Linked DNA regions of Homo sapiens: region 1 is linked to region 2. Evidence: fine-mapped expression QTL. A gene starts in region 2. The other region holds a variant in brackets. All regions are shown on one strand. Distances are between the middles of the regions. Region 1 holds the start of RAB11FIP3 (RAB11 family interacting protein 3). Region 2 holds the start of DECR2 (2,4-dienoyl-CoA reductase 2).

Evidence for each region. PIP is the estimated chance that this variant, and not a neighbour inherited with it, causes the effect.
Region 1: its variant is fine-mapped to the expression of DECR2 in lung (TOPMed, PIP above 0.99). The same link has a PIP of 0.9 or more in breast.

The regions. Positions count from the first base shown.
Region 1 is chr16:423,771-426,479 of GRCh38, reverse strand. RAB11FIP3 (RAB11 family interacting protein 3) reads right to left here and starts at 831. Exons shown (of 14, transcript NM_014700.4): 1 at 1-831. The coding sequence starts at 473. The variant C/T (reference allele first, on the strand shown) is at 1,052.
Region 2 is chr16:400,818-403,527 of GRCh38, reverse strand. It overlaps DECR2 (2,4-dienoyl-CoA reductase 2), which reads right to left and starts at 1,643. Exons shown (of 9, transcript NM_020664.4): 1 at 1,485-1,643. The coding sequence starts at 1,564. RefSeq lists enhancers at 2,078-2,663, 2,511-2,710.

The DNA.
Region 1 (2,709 bases), 23 kb before region 2:
ACCTCGCCCCGCGCTCGGTGGCTGCTGCTGGACCCCTGCAAGCGGAAAGGCGCGCTCTCCGGGCAGCTCGCGGGGCCACACTCCTCGGGCTCCTCAGTCCAGGAGAACAACGGGTCGAGTTCTGGAAGCGGCGCTTCGGAGCGCGGCCCTGGGCCCGGGGCGTCGGGGCTCGCAAGCTGCCCCCGCGGGCCGGAGCGCGGCGGCGGGGCGGACGGCCCGGGGTCTCGCGGGCCTCCCTCCAGCCCCGGGGCCGGCCCGGCGCTCCAACGCGCCCCGCCATCTGCAGCGGCCCCGGGCGCAGGCTCATCCAGGCCCGGGGACTGCGGGTCGGGGCCGCCGACGGGCGCTCCGAGGCGTAGCTCCGCAGGGCCCGGAGCCAGTTGTGCCGCCCCCGGCCCGTCCGGCCCGCCCGGCTCCGGGTCGGGCCCCGGCGGCTCCGAGCCCGGGGGCGAGGCCGGCGGGGCCGACGCCATGCTCCCGAGAGGCTAGTGGTGCGGAAGGGCGCGGGCGGCAGACAAAGGCGCTCAGGGCGCGGCGGCGGGCGCGGGCATCCCCTCGGCGGCGCGGGCGGGCGCGCGCGGGGCGCCCGGGCTGCTGGGGCTGGCGCTCGGGCCCTGCTCTGTCCTCGCCCATCTTCGCACCGCGCCTCAGCTGCCCTCGGCCCGGCGGCGCGGCGGGCGCAGGCCCATGGCGGCGGGGCGGCCTAGGGAGGGCGGCGAGGATCCGGGCGGCGGATGGCGGGGGACGGGGGCCGAGGAGGCCGGGGGACGGGGGCCGAGGAGGCCGGAGGCCGCGGAGCCTGTGAAGCAGGATGAGGAGACTAAGGAGGCTGAGGCGCCTGAGGTACCCGGAGAACTAACGCCGCCGCCGCCCAGGCCCCGCCCCCCGTCGGGCCTGACGTCAGCACGTCCCGGCGGGGTCCCAGCCCCTCGCCGGCTTGCTGTAGAGGCAGGCGCCGGGTGTGTCGCGGCAGTGCAGCGGCCGCGAAGGGGTGTTTTGCTGTATGTCATATTCCTCGTTTCGCCAGAGCGGGGGTCCCGAGCTTCGGGCG[C/T]GGGACGCGGGGGTGCTCCGAGGCTGCGAGTGGAGGCGTGACGTGACGTCCCTGGCAAGAGGCGCGCGGAGTCAGGCCTTACTTAGAACGTGTTCCCGCCGCACAGCTACCAGCGGGCGCGACCGCTACCCACGCATGGTGCGGTCGAGTAAACGGCACCGCCTGGCGAGCGAGAGACGCAAAGGGACATAGCCCCCTAGGAGCTGAGCTCTTCGGGGGTAAAGCGTTCTCACGTTGATGAGACCAGGAGGCGGCGCACGCCTGGCTCCGCGGCCCAGGGGTTGCAGGTGCCCCAGGGTTCGCGGGGCGCAGACGCCGCAGAGGGCGACGCCCTGCCCGGGTCCCGCGCGGACCCGGGGGACGCAGGGTCTGACACGGAGTGCGGAGGGGCCCCAGACACGCAGTCCATGTCCCTTGAAACCAGAGGCACGCGCGGCCACGCGCTAGGCCTTTCCCTTAAGCCTGTGACCAAGATCTCCGGGACTCCCAGCGTTGGGACGGGCGCGCTGGCCCACGCCCAAGCGGGAGGATCGCTTGCGCCCAGGAGATTGAGACCAGCCTGAGCACCAAAGCGAGACCTCGTCTCTACAAAAAATAAGACTCAAGAAGACACCCAGGGTGAATCGCCCGTCTGCAGCCAGCCTCCCGAGCACCGTGGCCGCGTCTGACAACTGACCTCTGTGTCTGGGTGTCCCTGTCCTCAGAGGGACACGGGACCTCAGAAAGGACCACAGCCCGGCGGCAGGCATGATGGTGGGAAAGCTAGTTAGGACAGGTGAGGCACTAAATTTAGCCTGTCATAATTTGTATCAGGGAAATGATGAACTTGTATTTTTACACACCATGGGCACCAACACAAGATATGGTTTCGTAAGCAGCTTTGGCAAGAACCAAAGGAACGGAACCTCTGCTTCCAAGTGTACGGTCAGGAGCAGCGTGTTAATTAAGTGAGTCATCTTCCGTGGCAGAATCCCAGGGTACATGGGACCAGACTTCGCGAGGCTGGCATTAGGAAAAGGAATGTGAGGGATCCTCCTCCCCAAACCGTATTCTCATTTTCTTGTAAGAGCTGTACGTGTTCATGAGGAAGATACTGCATTCAAAGAACGAAATCACCAGCAGCTTTGGCAAGAATTCAAATTTGGGCTGATGCCTTCGGCCGGATAAAATTTTCAGAAGCAGTGATAGTGATGTGTCAACCTTTCTAAATAGGGGTGTTAGTGTGGGCGAGGCAGAGACAGCAGGCTCCCTCTGCTTTTATGTGCCGGCGCTGCCAGAGGCAGAAGGCTGGCTTTCTGAGAGCAGGGGCCCGCACGCTCTGTCTGTGCTAGGGCTGGAAAACGTCCATTGCGTGCCCGGCTGGTGTCCTCCATGGAACCACAGCCTGGAAGCCTGCACCTCCCTGCCTGGACCAGTTAGAGGCTGTTCATGAAAGACTAAAGGGACAAGTTCCCGTCTATCCGTCTGCTGTTCAGAGCTACTATCTGTGTCCCCTTTGTAGGCTGTGGGCTGTAGCAGTTCCTTCTTTTCTTTTCTTTTCTTTTTTTTCCCCGAGACAGGGTTTTGCTCTGTTGCCCAGGCTGCAGTGCAGTGGTGCGACCATAGCTCACGGCAGCCTCAACCTCCTAGGCTCAAGAGATCCTCCCACCTTAGGCCAG
Region 2 (2,710 bases):
CCTGCATGGCACTAATATCAAATATGATACCTGAGATTCAGCAAGCTACGTCGGGATAATATGGCTTTTTTATTTATTAGAGATTTTCTTGTACGCATTAAATGTGTACTGATCGGTATGACTGGCACAAACTGTACCAGATGGATGGCAAACTTTTGCTGATCTCCAAGTTGCCTTTCCTATTCTTAATTATTAAAGATTAATTTTGGGCCAGGTGCAGCGTCTCACTCCTGTCATCCCAGCACTTTGGGAGGCCGAGGCAGGTGGATCATCTGAGGTCAGGAGTTCCAGACCAGCCTGACCAACATGGTGACACTCACCTCTACTAGAAATACAATTAGCCCAGCGTGGTATTGTGTGCCTATAGTCCCACTTGGGCGCACTGAGGCTGAAGCAGGAGAATTGGGAGGCTGAGGCAGGAGAATTGCTTCAACCCAGAATGAGACTCCGTTTCGAAAAAAAACTTTTTTTTTTTCCTGCAGAACACTCAGAGAGAATTGTCAATACCTGTCCTTGGAGAACATAATTTAAAACTTGTTTTCTTTTTTTGAGATGGAGTTTCACTCTTGTTGCCCAGTGCAATGGTGCGATCTCGGCTCACTGCAACCTCCACCTCCCGAGTTCAAGTGATTCTCCTGCCTCAGCCTCCCAAGTAGTTGGGATTACAGGTGTGCGCCACCACACCCGGCTAATTTTTTGTATTTTTAGCAGAGACGGGGTTTCACCATGTTGGCCAGGCTGGTCTCGAACTCCTGACCTCTGGTGATCTACCCGCTTCGGCCTCCCAAAGAGCTGGGATTACAGGCGTGAGCCACTGCTCCTGGCAAAAGATCAAAATTTTAATAGAAACTTGAAAATGTTGCCAATTGAAAAAAAGAAAAGGAAAAAAAAAAAAGGATCCGCCCATTAGCCGAGTGAGGGCAGGTGACCGGGGAGGATCGACCTTTGCCCGGGCTGCCTTCTCTTGTGAACACCAAGGCGTTTGCAGGAAAATGAAGAGCTGCTGGGCAAAACCTGGCATTCCTGGGCCTTCTGGGTCTTCCGGAAAAATGATTTCAACCTAAAATTTTCTGTTAAGAAAGAGGCCAGGTTGGGCCGGGCGCGGTGGCTCACGCCTGTAAATCCCAGCACTTTGGGAAGCCGAGGCGGGTGGATCACCTGAGGTCAGGAGTTCGAAAAGAGCCTGACCAACACGGTGACACCCCCTCTCTACTAAAAATAAAAATTAGCCGGGCTGAGGCAGGAGAATCGCTTGAACCCGGGAGGCAGAGTTTGCAGTGAGCGGAGATCGTGCCACTGCACTCCAGCCTGGGCGACACAGCGAGATTCCGTCTCAAAAAAAAAAAAAGAAAGAAAAAAGAAAGAAAGGAGCCAGGCAAGACAGGTTTCCTAACACGCGAGCCCTCGGGGACCACGTGGGGGCGCCGGCGCCCGCGGACCGGACCCCGCACCAAGGCTGCGCTCGCTTCCCAGGCCCCGCTCACCGCAGCAGGTCCGGGCAGAAGAGGTGGCGGTACGCGGGGAGACAGTCGTCCCCCTCCACGTCGGGCGGCGGCTGGGCCATGGCGCTCCCGTCGGGGACTGCGGGGACAACGGGCGGGAGCGGCCTCGGCCTCCAGGACCCGGCGCGCAGCTGCGAACTCGCCTGGAACCGGGAGCCCCGCCCCACTCCCCGGACGCCCCGCCCCTGCCCTGATTGCTTCCCGGAGGCCCCGCCCCTCCCCCGAATTCTCCCCGGAGGCCCCGCCCCCGCCCGCGGCCTGCTGGGACTGGAAGTCGGCGCGCGAGGCGCAGGCGCATTGCGGGGCCGGGGGCGCGGTTCCCGCGGCAGAAGCTCGGCGGTCTGCGGGTCTCCTCCCCGAGTCTTTTTCACAGGTATTCGGCGTCAGCGCCGCGTTCAGAGCCTCCAGGACTTGTGGGATACCCCTGGCTCCTGGGTCCAGGCCAGGCTCGCAGCCTCTGGGCTCCCCGTTCGCCTCCCCGTAAACACCATGGGGAGGGCCGGGGCCCAGGGAAGCGCGGCCAGCCCCGCGCCGCTTCCCAAAATGACCCGTTTTGAGGCCAATAAAGAAGGGTCCGGGGCCGGGCGCGGTGGCTCACGCCTGTAATCCCAACACTTTGGGAGGCCGAGGCGGGCGGATCACGAGGTCAGGAGTTCGAGACCATCCTGGACAACATGGCGAAACCCCCTCTTTACTAAAAATACAAAAATTAGCCGGGCATTGTGGCGGGTGCCTGTAGTTCCATCTACTCGGGAGGCTGAGGCAGGAGAATCGCTTGAACCCGGGAGGCGGAGGTTGCAGTGAGCCGAGATCGCGCCACTGCACTCTATCCTGGGCGACAGAGCGACACTCCGTTTCAAAAACAAAAACAAAAAAAAAAGGGTCCGTTACTTCTGTTCCGCGTGGGGGCCCGGGCGGGGCTATGCCGCGAACCCAGGACGGGGCGCCCCGCCCGCACCACTGTTGGAAGACGGGGGTCCGCGACGGCCACGGGGGAAAAACACGCAGGGCCGCTCCTGAGCTGAACACACCCGCGGGCCAGCGGCTTCAGGGGCGTGACAGAGCCGCCAGCGCTACAGTAATGGCTGCCAGGCCCTTTCTGCGCTGGTTGGCCTCAGCCCGCCGGCCCCTCTCTGCCCCTTCCCCGGGAAGGCAGCTTCTCCTTTGGCGGGATCACAGCACCGGCTCGCGCCTAGCTTGGGTTCTCC